Homo sapiens: one gene and its partners. The protein of the gene in region 2 purifies or fractionates together with the protein of the main gene of each other region. This does not show direct contact. Each region holds a gene or a part of one and is shown on either strand. Other genes may lie near its edges.

The links.
Region 1: the proteins of SEPTIN2 (region 2) and TANK purify together in Homo sapiens (affinity purification with mass spectrometry; one large-scale study listed by BioGRID and IntAct). This does not show direct contact.
Region 3: the proteins of SEPTIN2 (region 2) and RNPEP purify together in Homo sapiens (affinity purification with mass spectrometry; one large-scale study listed by BioGRID and IntAct). This does not show direct contact.
Region 4: the proteins of SEPTIN2 (region 2) and SON fractionate together in Homo sapiens (co-fractionation; one large-scale study listed by BioGRID). This does not show direct contact.

What each region holds. Positions count from the first base shown.
Region 1 is NC_000002.12:161,201,928-161,205,427, forward strand, and holds part of TANK (TRAF family member-associated NF-kappa-B activator), read left to right. Parts: intron 1-1,559; coding exon 1,560-1,668; intron 1,669-2,747; coding exon 2,748-2,866; coding exon of another isoform or gene 2,867-2,899; exon of another isoform or gene 2,900-3,049; intron 3,050-3,500.
Region 2 is NC_000002.12:241,346,925-241,350,424, reverse strand, and holds part of SEPTIN2 (septin-2), read right to left. Parts: intron 2,292-3,500; coding exon 2,234-2,291; intron 353-2,233; coding exon 251-352; 3' UTR 222-250; intron 1-221.
Region 3 is NC_000001.11:201,992,648-201,996,147, forward strand, and holds part of RNPEP (aminopeptidase B), read left to right. Parts: intron 1-3,499; coding exon 3,500-3,500. UniProt on the Homo sapiens protein: Exopeptidase which selectively removes arginine and/or lysine residues from the N-terminus of several peptide substrates including Arg(0)-Leu-enkephalin, Arg(0)-Met-enkephalin and Arg(-1)-Lys(0)-somatostatin-14.
Region 4 is NC_000021.9:33,556,538-33,560,037, forward strand, and holds part of SON (protein SON), read left to right. Parts: intron 1-618; coding exon 619-779; intron 780-1,008; coding exon of another isoform or gene 1,009-1,014; exon of another isoform or gene 1,015-2,529; intron 2,530-2,692; coding exon 2,693-2,839; intron 2,840-3,049; coding exon 3,050-3,238; intron 3,239-3,339; coding exon of another isoform or gene 3,340-3,500. UniProt on the Homo sapiens protein: RNA-binding protein that acts as a mRNA splicing cofactor by promoting efficient splicing of transcripts that possess weak splice sites.

The DNA of each region.
Region 1 (3,500 bases), about 80 Mb from region 2:
AATGTAATTGGAATCCGTATTTCCTTTTTTAATTTTTCAGTGAACATATACTGAACATCTCCTATGTATAAGTTACTTAATCCATATGAATTCTGTGGGGAATGTGAAACTATGTAAGACTGCCTTTAGGCAATGTGCAAAGACAATGTACCACATGGGTTGCTTATCAGCTTTGTCAGTTATTCATATTTGGAGTGTATTACTTATAAAAGTTCACCTTTCATTTGGGAAAATGTAGTATTTAGCTCTAATTTCTTTTTTTTTTTTTTTTTTTTTTTTTGAGACAGAGTCTGGATCTGTTGCCCAGGCTGGAGTGCAGTGGTGTGATCTTGGCTCACTGCAAGCTCCGCCTCCCGGGTTCACATCATTCTCCTGCCTCAGCCTCCCAAGTAGCTGGGACTACAGGTGCCTGCCACCACGCCTGGCTAATTTTTTGTATTTTTAGTGGAGATGGGGTTTCACTGTGTTAACCAGGATGGTCTCAATCTCCTGACCTCGTGATCCACCTACCTCAGCCTCCCAAGCTTTAATTTCTTAAGCTAATTTATATTTGCTAATCTATGAACAGCTATGTAATTTATTAAAATTTTTAAGTTTATTGGTCTCTGAAAATAATAGAGCTTCACTAATTTTGAACTTTAAGAATCAGTTTAAAGTGAAATATCTAGTATCTACTGAAGATCATTCTGAGATTATTAGAACTTCATTTTCATTTTATATTTCAAGGAATTTGCAACTTAGTCATTATTTATTTATCCCTCCAGGGATAGAAATTGGTTAAAAAAAGAGTTCTCTGCTATTGTTTGGTGATACGCTTTTAAGACTGTACTAATTTGGTAATTGTGATACAACAGTTTCAAATTTGCTTGAATGTTTGCAGCATCTGTATTCCTCAGTACAAACTTGTGTCTTTTTTCATTGCTTTATTCTCACAGTCACTGCAATAACATAGCAAAATTAATGGATTAACAATATAAGGGAAACTGGCATTTAAGACACCAAAGGTCAACTATATTCTCTTAATTTCTTAAAACTTAGTGGAGAAGTTTCTGGTCAGTATAATTTTATAATTTGCATTTGTCCCTTTGATTTGTATCAACACTTCCTTAGTGTTTGTGTACTCTAAAAATAAATTTAGAAGTGTGTTTATTTGAAAGACACAAAATCTTAATTTTTTAAGTTAGTATGTATTTTTAAAGAATCACTTTAATATAGCATCTGTTGTATCATTTGTGCTTTTTTTTTTCCATTAAGGAATAAATGCTAAATTACAGTTTTGATCCTTACTGAAGGATCAGGAAATCATAGATTGAATCCTTGACTGAAATGTCTTTAAATAAGTTAATCTTTAAAACTTCTGCGGTGCTTTAAGTGTCTTGAATCACTGATGTTTGTAACAATTACAAGTACATTCCTGGAGCCAGTTTGTATCTCATAAATCACAATACCTGCAAAATGACAATGTGGGCAACTCATATCTATTTATATTATCAATGGATGGTAAATATATGTTCATGTCTATCAGTGAATATCAGGCTAACTGGTTTTTATGTCAGCAGACTGAGAACTATGAGCAGAGAATACGTGAACAACAGGAACAGCTGTCACTTCAACAGACTATTATTGACAAGCTAAAATCTCAGTTACTTCTTGTGAATTCCACTCAAGGTATGTTCATGTTAATTTTTTATGTATTTCTAGAACCTCTTGGTGAAAAGAAAGGTGTAAGTTGAGTTTTTCTATTTTATTCCTTCGTTGTTTCTCAATAGTTTTGATATTATAACTGTGGTACAGTTATATGTTATGTTTATTTAAATGAACACTTGCAGGATATGGGAAAGTGGACTTTCACATATACTATACTATATGGTAGAACTCTAAGTTTATAAAACTTCCTAAAAAGCAATTTGCCAGTAAATAGCAGCAAAAGCTTTTGAAAACATCTATGCCTTTTGAACCAAAAACTCAAGTCCTAAGACTATATCATAAGAAAATATTTGTTCAGGTACTCAAAAATATATATGCGAGGATGTGTATCACAGTATAATGTCTAATCATGGAAAGCTAGAAACAAATATTCAGTAGTTACACTGATCTATATGAATAGCTATGTAGCCAAGAAAAGTGATGATAATAGGTATTAACTTGTAAGAATATGTGGACGATATATAGCAAAATGAACAAAGCAGGATACATAAATAAGTGTTTTTTTCATTTATGCAGAAAAAGGTGATTCTTGTGTGAAGTTATATGTATAGGAAAAGAAGAATTCTGATAGAATATATAAACCAAAATATTAACTGGAATAATTCACAGGTGATAAAAATTTGGGTAGCATTTACTTTTTATTCTTTTTGGCTGTCTGCATTTTCTAATTTTCCCATAATAAGCATGGAGTCATAATACAAATAATTATCTTAAATAAGAAACGCATACCTGAAAATGTGAATATAAAAGTTGAATTGTTGCTGACAGATGCAAAGAGCATATTTCTAGTTTTCTAAATTCTGCATATTTTACATACTGCTGGCTTTTGGAGAGCAGGGGTTTTGTGTGTTTGTTTAGTGGGAAGGAAAAAATATAAATGGACAACTTGTCAAAGTAACTATTACCTAAAGAATTTTCTAAAACTCCTACCTTAAAATGTATTCTCTTTATGGTTTTGAGTTTGTATTATTTTTTGCTTTTTCAGGTGGTACCAAAAATAAGGGTTTTCTGCTAATGTCCAAGAGGTTTTTGTCTTGCAGATAACAATTATGGCTGTGTTCCTCTGCTTGAAGACAGTGAAACAAGAAAGAATAATTTGACTCTTGATCAGCCACAAGATAAAGTGATTTCAGGAATAGCAAGAGAAAAACTACCAAAGGTAGACATTGCTTCTGCAGAAAGCAGCATTTAAATGCTGATGCGTGACATAGCTTCCTCATTTTATTTTTCTGAAGTGATCTGCTGGAATTCCAAACAGAAGTTCCATATATACAAATATGTGGCTTAAATATTTCTAAATAGAAGAACTATTTTCAAGTAAAATAAAGGCTGAGGTTTTGTATTTCCTACTGACCGTTTTTCTACATCACAAGCATTTCAACAAAGAAAACATTTAACAAAGAAATAGGGCTGGACACACTGACTCACTCCTGTAATTCAAACACTTTGGGAGGCCAAGGAGGGAGGATCACTTGAGCTCAGCAGTTTGAGACCAGCCTGGGCAACATAGGGGGATCCCTATCTCTATAAAAAATGAAAAAATTAGCCACGCAGAATGGCACACGCCTGCAGTCCCAGTTACTCAGTAGGAGGATTGTTTGGGCCTAAGAAGTCAAGGCTGCTGCAGTGACCCATGATCATGACACTGCATTCCAGTTTGGGTAACAGAGTGAGACCCTATCTCTAAATAAATAAATAAATGAATTAATGAATGAATGCCACATACATATGTACATATATGTGTGTGTGTGGTGTGTGTGTGTATATATATAAACAATGAAATAAAAGATTAA
Region 2 (3,500 bases):
AAAAAAAGAAGAGACAAAAATATGAAAAATCTTTACTAGAAAGTAGGTGGCAAAGTAGTGGCTTCTGTTTTTCAGGAGCAATCTCTCCTTGTTTAAGATTAGTGATGGAGTTACTTCAAAATGCAAAATATTAATGAGGCTTAAGGAGGAACCTGTCATATTTAAGCTGACACAATGTTAGTAACTGCCTGTCTTCCAGGCTAAGGGACAACAGGGCCTACCTCTGACTTCTTGATATGTGCACATCACCTTACACGTGGTGCCCGAGAGCCCCGCCATCGCCATCCCCGCCCTGCATCTGCATCTGCATCTGCGCCTGCATCCTTGCAATCATCTCTTGCATGCGGCGGAGCTGTGAACACACACACACATTATAGGTTTTCAAGGTTTGCTGTCTTTGAACATTATTTCTGGGTGTTCTGTGATTCCTAAAATTTCAACTTCTACACCTTCCCAAAATATGACAGGAGTTATTACATAAAGACTTTTTACCAATCAATAAAAAAAGCAACAGCTAAAGAGAAAATCAAGTAAATGATACGAATATGCAAGCCAAACAGAAACAATAACCAAAGAAAGATAAGACAATATGATAAATTTTCTTAAGACAGAGTCTCACTCTGTCTCCTAGGCTGGAGTGCAGTGGCGCAATCTCGGCTCACTGCTACCTCCGCCTCCCGGGTTCAAGCGATTCTCCTGCCTCAGCCTCCTGAGTAGCTGGGATTACAGGCACACACCACCACGCCCAGCTGATTTTTGTATTTTCAGTAGAGACGGGGTTTCACCACATTGGTCAGGCTGGTCTCAAACTCCTGACCTCGTGATCCACCCGCCTCCGCCTCCCAAAGTGCTGGGATTACAAGCGTGAGCCACCGCGCCCGGCCAATATGAGAAGTTTTCTAACCTAAAAGGAGGGAAAGAGACTGATGACAGTGAGAAATGCAAAGTAAAGGGGAATGGGAATGAATCAGCTTTTCTGGAGGGCAATGAAGGCCTCACAATAAAAATAATATATATACATACATATACATATATATATATTTTTTTTTTTTTAAAGGGATGGGATCTTGCTCTTTCACCTAGGCTAGACTGCAGTGGCACAATCATAGCTCACTGCATCCTTGAACTCCTGGGCTCAGGGGATCCTTCTGCCTCAGCCTCCCGAGTAGCTGGGACTACAGGTGCATGCCGACATGCATGGCTAATTATTTTTTAATTTTTTTCTAGAGAACGAGGGGGGTCTCACTCTGTTGCCCTAGCTGGTCTTAAACTCCTGGCATGAAGTGATTCTCCCACCTTGGCCTCCTAAAGTGCTGGGACTATAAGTGTAACCCACAGTGCCTGGCCAAAAATAGTAAATGTTAATTCATCTTTATCCTTATCATTATGATTTGTATGTGTTCAGAAATGCCTCCAGGAAAGTATTATAAAACATTTAAATTTTCTTCAGGTGACTTTGTGGTTATTTTTAACATTTAAATATTTGATCAATATTGAATTAATTTGACCAAAGAAGTATTTTCTTTTTGTTTCCAAAAGGCTAGCCCATTATGATCCTATTGTTTACTGAATAATGTGTTTGCCTTCCAAAACTCCAGCAGATCTGAATGCCACCTTTACAACAGAGCATATTTCCATATTTATGATCTACTTACAAATATCAGTGACATTACTAAATTGTCTCCAAAGTCTTTCAGCTAAATATATGAAGCATCATGTATGCTATGTAAATATCCATGTTTATTATTATATATAGATGTGTATATATAGTAATAAAGTAGTTATATGTATCCTCCTCAACAAATTAAAAAAAAAACTATAAACTTTAAGTTAATTACCAATGATATCTACGGATGTAAACAAAACACCTTCAGTCACAAGAATAGTACTTTTTGGCTGGGCACGGTGGCTCACACCTGTAATCCCAGCACTTTGGGAGGCCAAGGTGGGCAGATCACCTGAGGTTAGGAGTTCGAGACCAGCCTGGCCAACATGATGAAACCCCGTCTCTACTAAAAATACAAAAACAACTAGCCAGGCATGGTGGCGGGCACCTGTAGTCCCAGCTACTCGGGAGGCTGAGGCAGGAGAATCACTTGAACCCGGGAGGCAGAGGTTGCAGTGAGCCGAGATCACGCCACTGCACTCCAGCCTGGGCAATGGTGCAAAACTCTGTCTCAAAACAAACAAAACAACCAACCAACCAACCAACCAATAGTACTTTCCTACTTACCTCAGCTTCTTTTTCCAGCAAGATCTGGTCTTTATTCATGTCCTCATTCTCCACTTTCCTAAGAATCGAAAGAAATCAGAATCATAACACTGCAACAAATAGTTATTTGCTACCCCCCCAAAAAATTCTACTTTAAAATTTAAAATGACATGTATTTATCATTTCTCTTTTTATATTGAGATGGTGTCTCACTCTGTCGCACGGGCTGGAGTGTAGTGGCATGATCTTGGCTCACTGCAACCTCCACCTCCTAGGTTCAAGCAATTCTCCCACCTTAGCCTCCTGGGTAACTGGCATTACAGGCACGTGCTACCACGCCCAGCTAATTTTTTTTGTGTTTAGTAGAGATGGGGTTTTGCCACGTTGGCCAGGCTGGTGTTGAACCTCAAGTGATCCGCCCACCTTGGCCTCCCAAAGTGCTGGGAATACAGGCATGAGCCACCACGCCCAGCCTATCATTTTTCTAATTAAAGATATAATGAATAAAAAGGGAACAGAATGATTTTAAAAAGTTCGAACAACATGAAATGGAACATTCAAGAGACTTTTCTTACTCTAAGCTTGAGCGACAACACTTGCTGTTACCCACTCAAAAATAGGTATTATCTGAAGAATTTGCTTTGAGATGTTATTCTTTATTAATGCGAATGTAGTCACCACATTTAAGGAGCAGGATCTGCGTGAGTGAACGAGGGGCAAAGGGTAAGCTCCCCAAGCACACCTGAGAACTGTGCTCTGCAAAGCACACTAATCTCCATCTCAGGGCCAGCGCCTACTCAGCTTCCAGAGGGTGGAATTTTCTTGCTGCCTCTAAAATCTTTCTTAATGTCTCATTTCCAAACTCATAATTAGACTTCAATGTGTACAACATATGTATCTAGAAATCCATCAAATTATTAGAATGTGAGAATTTTAATGAATTACAACACAGGAAACTTTTGTTGTTGAGACAGGGTCTCACTCTGTTGCCCAGTCTGGAGCGTGGTGGTGCGACCATAGCTCACTGCAGCCTGGACCTACTGGGCTCAAGGAATCCTCCCCCTAGTAGCTGGGACCACAGGCATGCACCACCACATCTGGCTAATTTAAAAAAAATTTTTATAGAGGCGAGGTCTCCCTATGTTGCCAGGGCCGGTCTCAAACTACTGGGTTCAAGTGATCCACTTGCCTTGGCCTCCCAGAAAACTTATATAAAAACATATTAGAATGGTTAAAAAGAAAAGGTGAGTGAGGATGGCTGCAGGACTTTGCGAGGATCGAAGCTGCT
Region 3 (3,500 bases), on a different chromosome or scaffold from region 2:
GTGTGTGGTTGGTTACCTCTTACCAACACCCCAAAGCCCCTTGCCCACTTCCCGCTGCTATAATGTCCCAGTCCCTTGTTATACAATTCCTTTTCTCTACTTCTATAAGTGGGTATTTGGGAGATGTAGAAAATAGTGAAACTACACAGTAATAACCACTACACCTTTCTCAATTCTTCGTGAAAAGTTGGAATTAAAGGAAAGTTGAAATAGACATGTGTGGGGTTTTCCAGAAAAATGTAACAGATGTACAGTCTTCAACTGCAGGTGTGCTTTCAAGGTTGTTCAACAGTCCTCTTATTTACCTTTCCATCTCACTCCCTTTAAGCTGTTCTAAGACTTTACTCTTCTCTTTAAGTTTGCTATCCAATCCCATCCCCTCATTTAAGCAGAAGGTCTTGTCTCCTGTTTTATTGAGAATATTAAATTCATCAGATATGATTATGTCAGTTTCCTGTCCTCCACTTAAAAAGTTATCTTCATCTGCTTTTATCCTTCCGGACTGCAACAAAGGTCCTTCCTTCTGTTTAAAGCCAAATCTCTTCCCTTACATGTCCTCTGGGACTTTGCCTCATCATTTACATCTCTCTCTTCAAATCTGCAGCCTCCCCCTCTAGACAAGCACCAGTTTCTCTAAGATCTATAGCAAAGCAAAAAACAAACTCAAGGCTGGGTGTGGTGGCTCACGCTTGTAATCCCAGCACTTTGGGAGGCCAAGGTGGGAGGATCACCAGAGGTCAGGAGTTTGAGACTAGCCTGGCCAACGTGGTGAAACCCCATCTCTCCTAAAAACACAAAAATCAGCCGGACATGGTGGTGCACACCTATAATCCCAGCTACTCAGGAGGCTGAGGCAGGAGAATCACTTGAACGTGGGAGGTGGAGGTTGCAGTGAGCCGAGATTGCACTACTGCACTCCAGCCTGGGTGACAAAGTGAGACTCCACCTCAAAAAAAAGCCAAAACAAAAAAAAAAAACAAACTCGGCCAGGTGCAGTGGCTCACGCCTGTAGTCCCAGCTACTTGGGAGGCTGAGGCAGGAGAATGGTGTGAACCCGGGAGGTGGAGCTTGCAGTGAGCCGAGATCGCGCCACTGCACTCCAGCCTGGGCAACAGAGCAAGACTCCGTCTCAACAAACAAACAAACAACTCAAAAAACCCTTAACTCCATATTCTCTTCTGGCACGACACACTGTCCTTCCCTCTGTAGCCAGGTGACTTCAGTGGCATGTATACGCACTGGCTGCACTTCTTGAAACCCCCCCACCCCACAATCATTTATTGCTACAACCCATTGGAATCCAGCCCCCCACCCTTGCCATGCCGTTGAAACTAGTAAGAGAGGCCATTCGCCTCAATACGGATAACATATGTGATGCTTTTTAGCCCTTGCCTTCATGTTCTGCTGTTTTTCTTCTGCCCCCATTGACCCTCCTCTGGCTTCTGTGACACCACCCATGCTGGTCATCAGGCCTCCTGGTTAGTCCTTTTCTCATCTCCTTCCCTGACTCCTCTGCCCAGCTCCTTGTGTGTCGATGTTGCCCAAGGCTCTGTCTTTGACCTGTTCTTTTCTTCTACATGCTTTCCTTGGAGAGCTCACCCATTCTTGTAGTTTAACATATTTTCTGTGTTCTGCAGCCAGGATGATATCTTAAAACTAAATCTGATAATGTCACTTGTTGGCTTAAAATGCTCCCATGGCTCTGAAGGTCCGGTTCTGTAACAGTGCACCTGAGGCTCTTCATGACCCGACCCTCTTGGGCATCTCATGTCCCACCTCCTGCCACTGCCTCCCTCATTGCAATCTGATCCTGTCCTCAAGTAATCCCAGACTCTCGGTGCTTCCTCACATGCATATGCAGTGTTCCATGGCTACGTCTTTGCTTTTGATATTTGGGAAGTACCTGATACTGGTTTCCCTGTATCTTTTCTTCCTGTTAGAATAGTTCCTATGCTTCAGCAAACGCAGAGGAAGTTTTCCCTCATCCGGGCCTGGACCCATCCCACTTTGCCATCAGTCTCTTTTTTTTTTTTTTTTGAAACAGAGTCTTACTCTGTCACCCAGGCTGGAGTGCGATGGTGCAATCTTGGCTCCCCGCAACCTCTGCCACCCAGGTTCAAGCGATTCTCCTGCCTCAGCCTCTCAGGTAGCTGGGATTACAGGCATACACTACCATGTCCTGCTAATTTTTTTTTTTTTTTTTTTTTTTTTTAGTAGAAACAGCCTTTCACCATGTTGGTCAGGCTGGTCTGGTACTCTTGACCTCAGGTGAACCACCCACTTCGGCCTACCGAAGTACTGGGATTACAGACATGAGCCACCAGGCCCAGCCAGTCTCATTCATATGTCTGTGTGGAAAAGCAGTTCTAAGCGCAGCCAGGGGCTCTTGGTCAAGCAGAGCCTTTGGCTGCAGGATCCCTGAGTCCATTGCATCTTTCCATTAGACTGGATCTTCTTGTTTTGTTTTTGTTTTTGTTTTTGTTTCCTCCAAGCCACCTTTGTTTCCCTATCTTTTTATTAAGAAAATTTCAAATATTTAGAAAATTGAAAGGATGATGCATTGAACACCTATAGAACCATCTACTTTGTCATATTAGTTTTATGAGTGGATTTGTTTTTATTTTTGCTAGACCATTTAAAAGCAAGTAAATCTGTGTGCCTCTCTGAAGAATAGAGGCATTCTCCCTTATAACCACAATCCCATTATTGTACCTAAGGCAGTTAACAAATTTCTATTAACATTAGTAGGTTTGGGTCGGACACAGTGGCTCATGCCTATAATCCCAGCACTTTGAGAGGCTGAGGCAGGTGAATCACTTGAGCCCAGGAGTTCAAGACCAGCCAGGGCAACATAGCGAAACCCTACCTCTACAAAAATAAAAAAATTAGCCAGGCATGATGATGTGCAACTGTAGTCCTAGCTACTGGGGTTGGGGAGCTGAGATGGAAGGATCACTTGAGCCCCAGGAGGTGGAGGTTGGATCACACCACTGTACTCTAGCCTGGGCAACAGAGCAAGAACCTGTCTTAAAAAAAAAATAAAAAAGGTTTGTCTCTTAAGGTTTTATTCAATTCCAGATTCTACTATTAGAACGCTTTCTTATCTCTCCTCTAAGTAGGGAGAAGAAAACTAACATTTACTGTATAAATGTTTGAAGGGCTTTTGTGTGTTGTCTTATTTAATCTTCACTCATTTTACAGATGAGGAAACTGAGGCTCACAGAGGTTAAATCACTTTTGCAAGATCGCATTCAGTAGTGAAGCCATAACTGCGTAGCACGGTTCCACCTCCATGAGGCTGTCTTGGGTTCTTGTTTCTCAGGTGTGGTGAGCGGTCTCTTGGATCTGTGTGGTGATCCGATCTTGCACTCCGTCACTGTGGCTGACTGCATTGTCACATTCACTTGGCGGAGGCCAATTTCCTACAGGTGCTTTCAGGATCAGGTCACTGCGATGGTCTCTAAACACCATTCTGCTTTCTCTGCTCTCTTGTCTTTAGG
Region 4 (3,500 bases), on a different chromosome or scaffold from region 2:
CCCCATCTCTACTAAAAATACAAAAAATTAGATGGGTGTGGTGGCACGCGCCTGTAGTCCCAGCTACTCGGGAGGCTGAGACAGGAGAATCACTTGAACCTGGGAGGTGGAAGTTGCAGTGAGCCAAGATGGCGCCACTGCACTGCAGCCTGGGCGACAGAGTGAGACTGTCTCAAAAAAAAAAAAAAAAAGAGGTGGCACTTGAACTGGGGCTCAAAGAGTGATTTAAGGTGTCAGAAGGAGAGTAAGGTCATGATAATTTTGTGAAATGAAATAGGCTTTGGCAGGTTTATATCTTAGAGTGTGTGTAGTAGGGTGATCATTATAGTTGTGTAGTAACCTATTGTAATATTCTAATGGGAAGCTCAATATGTGGACTTAATTCCCTGAATGAGGCCACTGCTGAAAAACTTTGAGCCAGTGGTTTGATCATAGCTGTAACTTAGAGCAGAATATTGATGCCTATAGTTTTTTCCTTTTTTTTTTTCTTTTTTGTTAGATACCCAAGTTCTTCGATGGATCTAGGATGCCTTTAGTTTTGTTAGTATGTTAGACTTTTGGTAATACAAAATGTACAGTCTTTTAGGAAAACTGCAGCTTGTATTTTTCTTCTTACAGATAAGGCTCAATTACTTGAAATAGCCAAAGCTAATGCAGCTGCCATGTGTGCTAAGGCTGGTGTCCCTTTACCACCAAACCTAAAGCCTGCACCTCCACCTACTATAGAAGAGAAAGTTGCTAAAAAGTCAGGAGGAGCTACTATAGAAGAACTAACTGAGGTAAGCTAGACAGAATTTGTTTTCATTCTTAAATGGATTATTCCAGTGATGTTGACTCTGGAGCGTGCCAAAACCCGAATTGTGGGCAGAACTGATAATGGCTGGCACCGAGTGGCCAAAACCCGAAATACAGATGTGGCAGCGGCAGAAGCTCTGTTTAGCAGGCCATTATCCGGGATGGCTAAGCTCCGCTAGCTAAAAGTTACTTCCCATTACTTTTGCTTTCCAGTTTTAGAAGCCAAACTGACTGAGGAGTGGGACGGTTCGTTTGAATGGAGGAGGTGTTGAGTGAGCAACACGCAGAAGCTCGCCTACAGTTTCGTTTCCATTCACGACGCGTTCACTGATCGCCACGAGTATACTGCATATACGCAAAGACACAGACAATCTTCAGAAATGATCTTTTGCCACCGGAGCTTGGAAATTAATAAGAATAGCTGGCCATTGCCTGAAAGGAACTTCTTTCGCATCAACATTTCGGGTTTTGGCTGTTTGGTACCAGCCATTGGCGATAATGGCCGGCCATTATCAGTTCTTCCTGCGGTTCGGGTTTTGGCAGTAACATATATATTTTAAACACACTTATTTTTGTTTTTAAAAGTTTGATCTTTTCAATTGAGGCTTTTTTGGGGCTTTGTTTTATTACTATTTTTTTGGTGTGGGTGGATGGGGGGAGATGCTAAAATATTGCTGCTAGGATCCAGAAATACCACACTGTTTCATATATTGGAACTTGTTATTGGCTAGCCTTATGCCAGCCTGCCACTGTCAATATATTCTGTTCCCCTTGGTTACAAGCTTAATATACTCTTGTGTTTTTGGCGAAATGAGCTTTTTATCCTATTGTAATATTTTCAATTGATAATAGATGTCATTAAATCTACTGCTTGTATAGAGACAGGTGTACCCAAATTTACTCTTGACCTTTTTATAAAGCCAGGTAATGGAGTCTGTTCCTTTGCATCTCAGGAAGGAATTGACTTTGCTTTATGTATCAGACCTCATCAATTGCACCCTCTCCATCATGCCTTATTTTCCTAAGTTCTCCTTAAAGAAACTCAACCCACAAAACATTTATGGAGAGACATGTTGCTATCTAATCCTGTTGCAAATATTTCAGATCTTTTGTTTTGCCATACATCTGGGAAAATGTAAAGCTTCTGAATCTGTTTCCTCACTTAGATTTATTACAATATGAATTACAACTTTTTTTAAAAAATTAAGGACCTTGTAAACGCTTCTATTGCTTATTTACCTAATCCAAGCTCCTTATCCAAAATGCTAAGGACAGTTAGTATTTTGCTGTTTTCGGCCCCATCTTCAGCCTTCTTGTCCCAAGTTTCTTCTCACCTTTTTACCACCACCTGACTAGGATGACTTCTCCTTTCCCTACCAGTCTTTGTTCTTTACTATGAAAATCTGGCTTAGAACTCTTCAAGGAATATTCCTTGATTCTCTAACTCTGCCTGACTATTCTCTCTTAAGCCTTTGTTCTTTTAGCACTTATGTACTCAGTTTGTATTATATCAGTTTGCACTTGTTATTGTGTTGCTCTGTAAAAGTGTTCAATTATTTCATGTATATGTATTCCTTCTCTTGTACTAGATTGTAAGCTCCTTGAGAGCAGGGACCATGTCTTCTACTTTTTTTTTTTTTTTTTTTTTTTGTATTCCCCAGACAGTGCCCAGTACAGTGCTCTCTCTGCACATAGTAGGTGCTCAATAAATGTTGTTGACTGACTGACCAGCCAGAGTGTGTTTAAATAGTAGTTAATATGCCAAGTTACGTATCTATAACCTATCATGAATCTTGTTTAACTTTGGAAAGTTGCTATTATGTGGTTTTGATTCTAAGAAATTACATGTTCTACATAAAGCGTAAGATTTATCTTTTGTTTGTTTTTACTTTTAAAGAAATGTAAACAGATCGCACAGAGTAAAGAAGATGATGATGTAATAGTGAATAAACCTCATGTTTCGGATGAAGAGGAAGAAGAACCTCCTTTTTATCATCATCCCTTTAAACTCAGTGAACCCAAACCTATTTTTTTCAATCTGAATGTGAGTATTAGTGCTTATGGATTGGTAAAACAGTGTAACTTGTGGAACTATTTAAATAAAACCCAAATCGAATTTAGTTTATTAATTTTTGTTTTAAATACTGTGAGAAATAATGGATAATATCATTTCCTTCAGATTATGTAGAAAATCTCAAACCATTTAATGTAGATATCATATTGAGCTTTAATTAAGAAACACTTTATTTTTTAGATTGCTGCAGCAAAACCAACTCCACCAAAAAGCCAGGTAACATTAACAAAAGAATTCCCTGTATCATCTGGATCTCAACATCGGAAAAAAGAAGCGGATAGTGTTTATGGAGAATGGGTTCCTGTGGAGAAAAATGGTGAAGAAAACAAAGATGATGATAATGTTTTCAGCAGCAATTTGCCCTCAGAGGTAAGTAGGAGGAATATTATGTATTTTTCCTTTTTTATACCTGAATCTGCCATTTCATTGTTATGTTATGTCTGATTTGGATTCTGTTTCACTCTTCTTAGGGCCGGGTTAAACGGCAGGGCCGGGTTAGACGACAGATGAAACAACCCGCAGCTTCTCATTTGACAGTAACTCGATGCAATTCACTTTGTGGAACCAAGCCACAAAGTGAAAAGCATCGAATTGCAGAGAACAGTGTTATCACATCCCTACCCAACATTGG